Linked DNA regions of Homo sapiens: region 1 is linked to region 2. The links come from fine-mapping of genetic effects on gene expression. A gene starts in region 2. The other region holds a variant in brackets. All regions are shown on one strand. Distances are from middle to middle. Region 1 overlaps LINC02284 (long intergenic non-protein coding RNA 2284). Region 2 holds the start of LINC02284 (long intergenic non-protein coding RNA 2284).

Evidence for each region. PIP is the estimated chance that this variant, and not a neighbour inherited with it, causes the effect.
Region 1: its variant is the best candidate, but not a certain one, in a credible set for the expression of LINC02284 in adrenal gland (GTEx, PIP 0.79).

Annotation. Positions count from the first base shown.
Region 1 is chr14:56,330,957-56,336,340 of GRCh38, reverse strand. All of the region lies in intron 5 of LINC02284 (long intergenic non-protein coding RNA 2284), which reads right to left. Among named protein-coding and RNA genes, the nearest start is that of LINC02284, 23 kb to the right of the region's middle. The variant C/T (reference allele first, on the strand shown) is at 3,062.
Region 2 is chr14:56,307,805-56,313,188 of GRCh38, reverse strand. LINC02284 (long intergenic non-protein coding RNA 2284) reads right to left here and starts at 2,200. Exons shown (of 7, transcript NR_187174.1): 1 at 2,095-2,200.

The DNA of each region.
Region 1 (5,384 bases), 23 kb before region 2:
GGGTTAGTTAGAACTAAACAAATTAATTGTTCCTGGTGAGCCCCAGGGATTGGCTCACTTTCCCTTCCCTAATACCCGCTTCTGACTCCGTAACTTGTTCTTTTTAGCCCAAGAGGGCCTTTTGTTCTCAGATCACTGGCAGAGTAACAGAGGTGGTTGAAAGACGCCATCTCTTCGGGTTCTTTGTGGCCTCTTCCTATAACTCGCCTGGAGAGTGGCTCTGATACTTTAAAATGACCTTGGTCATAACAATAATAGACCCAAGTGGAGTGCTGTCCTTCACTCTTTGCTAATTATGTCACGTTGTCCAGTTCAGGCTTAGCACATCATCTCCTAAACTTTGTCTAGTGGGGTAGGTTTTGATTCTTTTTTTGTTAATTATCTGACCTTGCATATGTCCAAGTTTTTCTACTGTGAAATGGGAATAAGTGTAACTGCCTAACCTAACCCCTGGATATATTGGGTGTAAACGTTTTATGCAATACCAGAGAATCATCATCATAATCATAGTAGAAACCAAGGTGCGGCTGTTCCTTCATTTTCAGGTTTCTAGAGTTTGGTGCTTTCAGGGGAATCAACACTGTACTACACTGGCCAGTATCCATGTACAGGAGGGCAATGGTTCTCACACTAAACTATGCCTGAGGACCAACTGGGGATCCTGTTAAAATACAGATTCTTGGGACCTGCCCCCAGAGATTTTAGTTCAATGATTTGGGATTGGGCTCAAGAAATTCATTCGTCCAGCAATTATGTGCAGACATTGTTAAAGGCACTAGGGTGATGGAAGTGAACGAAGAGACAAAAATCCTTTCGTGGTCTATCTGCATTTGTAACAGACCTCCAGGTGACGCTGAGGCCATTAGCTGTACTCTCCCAAGGGCCACACCTTGGCAGCAGCACATGTCAACTAGTGACAAGATCTACTCTCTGCTATGCCAATGGAAATTTCATCACATTTCCAAACTCTGATTCTCCTTCTTTTCCACTGGGACCTACTTTTTGGCCACAATCTTCAGGAATTAGTTTTTATATTCAGGAACAATGGTTCACTGGGGTCCTTCTCAGCAAGTTCATTTACTCCATTGCTTTTTTATTCCAGTATCATACGTTATTAGCACTGGGTTCCCGAAGGACCTCCTTAGCATCAGAGTCTTTAAGAAGGCTCAGGAAACATCACTTGTACCAGAGACTTTGGTAACAGGAATCATCAAGAAGATGTCTGGATTTGACTTTCAAGGATCAGAAGACAATTAACTTGATGAGTTCTAACCTAAACCACAAGCTTACCCTTAAGAAAAATTAGCCTTATACTGAACTTACTCCAAGTCATTTCATTTACATTTTCCTTTCTATACCGTTTTGAGTTGGGAAAAATTCACTTTTGTTAACGGCCCACACATCCTGTGGAATGAAGCCTTCATTCTAAAATGCAGTTGATTAATTTCACTAAGTCCTTTGATGCATCAATACTAAAGATGTGTGGGAAACTTAGCTGACCTGGACCAACAGAGCAAATGAAGTAGCTTCACAAGGGCATTGGCTGATTTTAAAAAAAAAAAAACACTTTTTACGTGCAATATCTACCTTAAAAAAGATGTATTAGTAAACAGAGCTGAATTATAAAAAATTCTTTTCACTCCAGCAAGCCTCAAGTACCCAAAGCTGACAACAGATGACTCAGTGAGTAAAATAAAGGCAGAACAAGGCAACAAGGACAAGTAAGACTTTAAGTGAGTAAAGGAAATGAAGAACTACAAAAATACCTAATAGATTTTAGGTTTATTGAAAAATGTATCTAGGGAGATTGCTTAAGTTATATTTCATGTAGTCCATATTTTGTTTATTTATGTCCTGCCTCCTTCCTAAAAAGGATTGGAAACTGCTCATTTATTCTCTGTATCTGGTGTGAGATAACATTTTAAAGAAAAGATTACTGTTTCATTCTTAATCTCCTTCCTCACAAGTTCTCCAACCATTAAAAAATTTCAAACAGGATAAGGAAACGACATACTTCTCTTATGATAAGTTTTCCCATATCCAGAAAAATCTGCCATTTTAATAACTATTTTTTATCAATCTTAGAGATCCTCCCAGCTCCAAAAAAACTGGGTCGGTATGTAAACATTATGTTTGTAGTTGATGGCAGTGAAATTGCACAACGAAGCGTCTTGCTTTATTTCTAATTTTAAAAGTATATGTGAAACTTTAAAAAAGAAGTCTCCAGTTTTTGAAAACAAGCTTCCTTTTCCATGTCCTTCTAGGCCTTGGCCTCGTGCATACACATTTTACATACATGCACCTCTTGTGTGCAATTGTTTCACTTAACATTGTATTATAGGCATTTTCCCCACATTGTTATGCATTTTAACTTTGAAAATTTAAATTGCCATTTTTAATGGCTACATAATTGTCCATAGAGTTGCTGTATCATTAGAATACAGGAAAAGGAAGGCAGATATTTGAGCAGATGGCCACGACACAGTTCAGGAAATGAGTCACATCACTGTTGTTTACAGTGTGCTGGAGCACTTCATATTCCAGGGAGAGAGGTCTGGCCCTGAAGAGTTGATTACTGTAAGGGCTTATTTATCTGAAACACATAAGATGGAAGCTGTCCTGGTCTCAAATTTGTTTTGAAGCCACTCTTTATTCATTTCCTGTATTAATATCCTTCAAGGGACAATATGTTCTGCAAAAAGCAGAGTGAACACCTGAAATGAAACAACTCATCCCTGCATTCTGCACAGTGGCTGGGCTGGTAGGTGTGAGGGCTAGGGGCCTCCCGATGCCCCAGTTCTCTCTCTCCCTCTCACACACACACGCCACCACCACCAGCACTTCAGTGGAGTTACAGTGTACAAGGCATATAGAATATGAGGCAGCAGCAGAGTGTAGTGGCCACGAGCATGTAGTCTGGAACCAGAACTTGACACTCGTGTTCTTGCATCTTAACCTTTAGCATCTGTAAAAATGAGGTAATAATAATCACTTAAAGTCTTACTTGTCCTTGTTGCTTTGTTCTACCTTTATTTTACTCGCTGAGTCATTTGTTGTCGGC[C/T]TTGGGCACTCGAGGTTTGCTGGAGTGAAATTGATTTTTTATAATTCAGCTGTTTACTAATAGATATTTTTAAAGGTAGATATTGCACATAAAAAGTGGTTTAAAAAAGAGGATAATAATATCCTCATCCTATGGAGTGAGGATAACGTTCACTCCATAGGGTTATGGTGGGGATTGAATAAGGTAATATCCATAAACATAAAGAATAGAATTTGGCACGTGGTAAGCGCCATGTCAGTGCTTATTACTATATTTTCTTGCCACTCACTTCTTTTTTTTTTTCTGAGACGGAGTCTCACCCTGTCACCCAGGCTGGAGTGCAGTGGCGTGATGTTAGCTCACTGCAACCTCCACCTCCCGGATTCAAGCGATTCTCCTGCCTCAGTCTCCCAAGTAGCTGGGACTACAGGCATGTGCCACCACGCTTGGCTAATTTTTGTATTTTTAGTAGAGATGGGGTTTCACCATGTTAGCCAGGCTGGTCTCGAACTCCTGACCTCAAGTGATCCACTCACCTCAGTCTCCCAAAGTGCTGGGATTACAGGCGTGAGAAACTGCACTTGGCCTCCACTCACTTTTAAGGACAGCAGAGCAGAGGTCCAACTGCCAGGACAATAACTGGGCATTATCACCCCTTTGATAATAGGAAAGAATACACTTCCCTGTAACATCCTGACCACTTCTATCTGTGTCCCATAGAGAGAAAAATGACACTTATTTTACAAAAATTTTAACCCAGGGACAATATGTGAGACCCTGTGTGTACATTTTAAGCCCACAACTAAAGAACCACTCCTGGAAGTTTAAGCCTTGGTTTCGACTTCAAGCACATAGTGTGAGTGATACTATTTAGTTAGTACAAGATTCTCTCACCACCATTACTGGCTACCATTTATTCATCACCTACCACCTGCCAGGACTCTCTCTTTCATATAAGTACATCTAGCCCTCACAACAACCTTATAAGGTAAGTATTATTATTATTATTATTCCCATTTTATATTTAAAAGATGTGGGAACTTGGGGCCAGAAAGATAAGGTGATTTGCCTAAAGCCAAGTGGACTCAGAATTAGAATTTAAATTTAGGTCTGGTTAACTCTCAAGTCTATTCTTTTCCCACTGCGCCCACTCCTGTTTACTGTCATCTTTGTACAAAGAGGACTTGAGCCTTGGGGGCTTGCACTGCTGATTAACTAAACTGGCTAATGCCTACAGCTGCTGTGCTGAACTGTTCAGTGCTTCCCACATGTGTCCTGGGCTCCATGCCAGCCCTACAAACCCCCCTGCCTCCCGACACCCACACCCGCTCTTCAGACTCAGCATCTATGCTCCTGACCCTGGCCTGGGTTGGATCCTCCACCCTGCTCATGAAAAGAGTAGTGTGAAATTGACATCGAGACAATCAGATAAAGCTGGCTGGTTCTGGTCCTACCTGTCAGCTACCTCCTCCTCTGTTCCCACATCTGGCGACCTTCTGTTTCACCTCAACTCCTCTGTCCACTCTTTACCCACTTCCTGCTGAGTAGGCGTTGAGGTTATACAGGAGGTGATGGAGACCCCTGTCTCTTTTCCCTTCCCCCCTACCTGGCACTGGGCACGAGAATCCCTGATTACACTCCTGGAAGTGAGGGGGCACACACCTCCCTTGGGATGGAGAAGAGTGAACTGAGAGAGGTGCAGAGGCCTCACTCACGCTGAGTTGCTTTGGAACATCAGGCAGAAGGGGCTCACACTCCAAACCCACACTGAGATCACAGCATCTTCGTGAACTGATTTTAGGAGTTCTATTGCCCCACACCTCCCTGGCCCCCAAAGATTCAGATGTTGCAACCCTATCTCCCCATACATCAGAATGTGACCTTATTTGGGAACAGGGCAGATGTAATTGGTTAAGACGAGGTCATAGTGGAGTGGCCTTTAATTCAATATGACTTGTGTCCTTATAAAAAAGGGCAAATGGGCCGGGCACGGTGGCTCATGCTTGTAATCCCAGCACTTGGGGAGGCCGAGATGGGCGGATCACAAGGTCAGGAGATCAAGACAATCCTGGCTAACACGGTGAAACCCCGTCTCTACTAAAAATACAAAAAATTAGCCGGGTGGGTGCCTGTAATCCCAGCCATTGGGAGACTGAGGCAGGAGAATGGTGTGAACCTGGGAAGCGGAGCTTGCAGTGGGTGGAGATCACTCCACTGCACTCCAGCCTGGACGACAGAGCAAGACTCGGTCTCAAAAAAAGAAAAAAAGAAAGGGCAAATGGACACAGACATGCTCACAGAATGCCTTCATGTGAAGATGAAATATCTGGATGATGCATCTACA
Region 2 (5,384 bases):
TAATCAGTTACTATTCATTGACTTAAGAAAATCAGACATAATTTGATGTTTATATGTTTATAATGGATATTTGTCCACGAAATGGGATAAATATGAAATGAGACATTCAAAAATGAAATGTCTTATGAAATGTACACTCCTGCTGATGAACTCAAGCCTTTTCCCAGCTAGCTTCAGATGGGCATCTATTGCTTTGGACTGCACAACATCATCCCCTAGTGCCACTTTCCTCTAATACCAGGACCACTCATTCCCATGGGTACCCATTTCCATAGCTGTGGTGTGGTTTGATTGGAACTGCTGTTGCCAACCTTGCCTCACTCCAACCTCCCCACCCCCCACCCCAAGCTGTACAGAGGTAGGCACCTGGTCCAGCTAGGTAACAATATCCCTCCATCCATAGTGACTGCTTCTAGGCTGAGCCAGTCACAGCTCTTCCCATCAGGGGAGACCATTTCTGCAGGAGATGCTAGGCTAGGAGGGTGATATGGTTTGGCTCTGTGTCCCCACTCAAATCTCATGTTGAATTGTAATCCCTGATGTTGGAGGTGGGGCCTGGTGGGAGATGATTGGATCATGGGGGTGGTTTCTGATGGTTTAGTACCATCCCCCTAGTGCTATCTCATGACAGAGTTCTCCTGAGATCTGGTTGTTTGAAAGTGGGTAGCAACTTCCCCTCCACCTTCCTCCTGCTCTGGCCATGTGAAGACCATGCCTACTTTCCCTTCCCCTCCTGCCATGATTATAAGTTTCCTGAGGCCTCCCCATAAGCAGAAGCCGTATAGCTTGCAGAACCGTGAGCTAATTAAACCTCTTTTCTTTATAAATTACCCAGTCTCAGGTATGTCTTTATAGCAGTGTAAGACCAACTAATATATAGGTATTAGTTGGGTATAAGCAAGGGGCTGGTGGTGGTCACCTTTCCTGTCATGTGAAAGACTGCAGGTATAATTATGTGAGCACAGTCAAGAGACAAAGGGAGAGAGACAGCAGCAGTGATGGGGACAGAGTCTGAGCTCTTGGATTCAGCTGTTCCTGAAATCAGAGGCACACTGAACTTCCCAATCCCAAGAGGCAATAAGTTCCTTTTGTGTCCCCTTAGGCTAGTTCAGAAATTGGATTTCTGAATTTGCAGCTGGCAGAGCTCTAATTAATACAAAGACATGTTAAAAAAAAACAAAGGGATATTTTTTACTGTCTTTATAGTGCTATTTTGTGGTGTTCTGACTGTTGCACAGGTGCTTGTTATTGAAGAGATAGATACATGCTCTATATAAAAGACATTTACTGAGTGCTTACTATTGCTAGGCATTATTCTAAGTACTTCCCAAACAGTGAGTAAATTAATTCTCATAAAATCATTTGCAGTGGGTATTACTAGCAATGTTATACAGATGCAGAAACTGGGACAGTAAAACAGTAAAGAAACTTGTCCTAGGTCACAAAGCCCGCAAGTGGCAGAGCTGGGATTTGAACCTAGGCAGACTGGCTTGAGTCTGTGCTCGTAGCCACTATGCTAACACTTACAACTTGCTTTTGTCCTAGTTTTATATTTCATAATTACATCTAATAACAAAAGAGAACAAGGCACCATATACCTTCTCCGTTCCATGCCTTGAATGCTGGCCTCTAGCTGCTGTTCTTCCAAGGTGAGAAAGAGACCTAGTTATACTTTACAGAGAATTTGAGAATCATGGTCCTTTAGACTTGGGAACATTTTGGAAGAAACACTGTCCATAAGCCTCACCTAAATTGGCACAACTGAAAATGCCCATCTTTTCATAAGTCTATTGAACGATGTTATTCAACCAGTGATAAATTAACCCCAAAATACATAGGTGAACTGCAGTATATAACATAGAATAAATATATCTGAGAAAGTCAAATGTTGTGAGATGGGAAAGGGTACTCCTGCTGCTCAAGGATTAGAGTTGAAAGCAGGAAAATCTGCTGTGCTTAACTGGGTAAAGTCACAGCATTTACATTTCTTGTTGATAGCTAGTGAAGATTCTCCTTGAAGCTCAAGTTCTCGCTGCCCTCTGTCCCAGTCCCCTGTAGAATTGTCAAATCCCGCTTTTGCACTTACTTGATTACCTGCTGAAATCCTGAAATTGCCACAGCTGTTGCCATTTCAGCTCCTTGAATTTATGAGCACCAATGCATCTCCCTTGCATCTGCTTTGGCTGTTGCTTTTGAAAGGAGCGATCACACAAGGAGGGGTAGAGGAAGAGGCCCAGATAGTTCTGTGGCACTGAAGGCAGCTAAGAAAAGAAGGAACTCTTGACTTTGCGATTAGAATAGTAGCAACTGAGAACATTAAATGTGTTTATCTTTCTTCTGAGGAATGCCAAGTATTTTTTAAAAGAGAACCCTGACTCATCGTGCAGAAGCACAAGGACACACACTAAAAATAGTGGCGTGGTTTCTAACATCGAGATGCTCCGCAGCGGGTGACGAGAGGTTTGCTTCTAAATAGACAGGTAACCTACGGAGAGCATATGACGATCTTCTCTCTAAAGGAGTCTGTCAACTCTGTGGGATCTTCCTTTCAGATGACTGATGGGTACAGCAGGGTGGAGGTCGGGAAGGGGAGGCCAATGGATATGGAGGTGGTACTGTTTCCATAAGCATTTCTCTTCTTTCCTTAATGGAATCGACATACACTCTGGCTTCCGCAACGTCCTAGATTAAAGTGGCTTTAAGCCAAGGAGTAAGCCAGTCAGACACCCTTTACACATCCTCAGTTCTAGGTGGGCTCTGGTCTGGGACCAACTATTCTCCCTGATTGATCTGTGCCCTGCCACGGCCTCAGAGAAAGACTGATTCCTGCGTATTCACTAAGGACAGTAAGATGCTTCTGGACAGTCAGATATTTGGGACCTTGATATTCCCCACAGTTGAGTCCACTGGCTCTTTATGCACAGGTGACCAGCACTGACCGAAGCTTCTCAGAGTGAAACTGAGCATCTTTCCAGGTGCCTGCACCGCCAAAGCCGAGACCATCTCTCCATTTCCACACACAATGGCACCTTCAGAAAGCAGGGAGAGGATGTACCTCCCTGCCAAAATCAATCCTGGTCAACTCCAAGTGAGTCTATAAGCCGTACTAAAATAAAGCTGATTTAACAAATAATGGCTTAACACATGGAATCACTAAATGTTATGCTTTAATGTATTTGTAAGAAAATCTCACCATTTGATGTTAAAAGGAGGAACAAGATGAATTTTGACACGCATTTGTCAAATCTTGAGGAACATTAACTTTCTGAGCAGAGAAGACCTTTTTAGAGCCCCCAGATGGAAACTGGATAAAGTCCTTTAGACTTATGAAAAGCTACATGCTTGAACACAGCTCCTGCCCTGTGGTTTCAAATACAGGCTTAGGACTTCTGCCTCTGAATAGGCTGTCGGGCAGCAGACTGATGCTCTCACCAAAAATAACTAGAAAGGCCACATAAAATAAAATTAAATTTAAAACTCGGTTAAAAGACATAAGAGAACTGCTGATGCATAGGTGACTATCAAGGCCACAGTTTGAAGAGGGTAGAATCACAGAGGGGTGAGTTGTTGATCTGTTGATCTGCAACTTCTTTTATTCGGGGACATTTGCAGAGTTTAGATGTAGAGTAAGAATCCGCCACTGGAGCAGAGAAATCAGCAGAGCTCTAGATAGCCTTGGAGGGTTCAAAAGACAAAGTTGAAAATATACGAGGCCAAGATCCTGGTGAGAGGCAGAAAACTGACCCTGGTTTTCTCTTCAAGAGGTTAAGAGAGCAAAAGGCTAAAAGATTAACAGGGCAAAAGGCTAAGTGGAAAGACTGAAAAGAAAGTGAAGTTTTTGGCAGGGTCACCATGCTTAGGGAACAAGAATTACGGTTCAGGACTCACAAGGGGAAGGGCCCTGGTGAATAAACCAGGGTCTTGGCTGAGGCCTTAGGAGCCTAGATTTCACTCAGCTCAGTGAAAGTTGATTATCCCCTTCTCAGCTTGCCTAACAAAAGAAGGTGTACTCCCCTTTGGTGAAGAATAACATCTGGAGCCTCCATACTTTTCCTTTTAATGGATAATGCGCAGCGTTCAATCAAAACTTTTGGGGGTCCCAGCAGCATGCCTGGTAATGGCTGTGATGACAGTTTTCTAATATTTAATTTGATATTAAGTGCATATCTAATTCATAGAACTTGGGCTTCCTGGAAGCACGGTTGCCACAGGCAGTCTGGGAAACAGTGCCAAGGTGTGTGAGTCTGTGTCTGTGTGTATAACACTGGCTTTCATACAGGAGCTGCTCATTAAGGGATAAGCTGCAAGCCAATCATTTGTCAAAGATAATTCTCATTCGGTTTCATACCAAGGAGTGAGGAAGATTTTTTTTTAACTGTGAAAACCCCACAAAAACAAAAAGAACAACAAAAAAAGAACAAAGAAGCCGCCTCGCATCCTACAAATACAAGTCAGTATTCCTTCTGTGTTCTCTTGTAGCATGGTGCTTCATTTTACTTATCTGTATTCTTCCCAAGCTGCAAATTTACTAGGGCCACAGACTATATCTACCTCAGTCACACAAGTCTCCTCCAGTGGCTGGTGCAGTGCCTGGAGTACAATGGGGGCTTAATAAATATTTTTTATAGAATTAATGAAGGAAATAAATAAAAGCAAACTGAATGTCAAACTTACTTTGGGAAAACAGTCACAATACAGTTGTGATCTGCAGTTGGGTGCACAAAAGCCCAATGTGAACTATAGCAGAAAGTCTCTTATCTGATGTAGTTAGAAAGGTAGTTATTCAGGCCAGGGACAGTGGCTCACACCTGTAATCCCAGCACTCTGGGAGGCTAAGGTGAGGATCCCTTGGGACCAGCAGTTCAAGACCAGCCTGGGCAACATAGTGAGACCCCATCTCTAAAAAAAAAAAAAGTTAGCTGGGTATGGTGGTGTACACTCATAGACCAAAGTACTCAGGAGGCTGAGGTGGGAGGATCATGTAAGCTCAGGAGTTTGAGGCTGCAGTGAGCTAGGATCACGCCACTGTACTGTAGCCTGGGTAACAGAGGGAGCCCATGTCTCAAAAAACAAAACCAAAAAAATTTTTTTAAAAAAGGAAAGAAAGGTAGTTTTCAGTTCATTGAAAGTAATTTATAGCAGGGAACTTATAGAAAATATATACTTATTTTGCATTTTACCCTTCATACCTCATTTTAACTTAAACACAAATGCACATTTGTATACTAATATCTTGACAGTGTGCCAAAGCCTTTTGAGTATAGGTCCGTTTACAAGAGTCAAGTGATCCTTCTTGATGATCTTTCTTGAATGAACAGCATTCACAATGAATCATTTCCAATTTAAGCTTTTTTAAAGTGGAGTGAGAACCAAAAGGCAGTAGG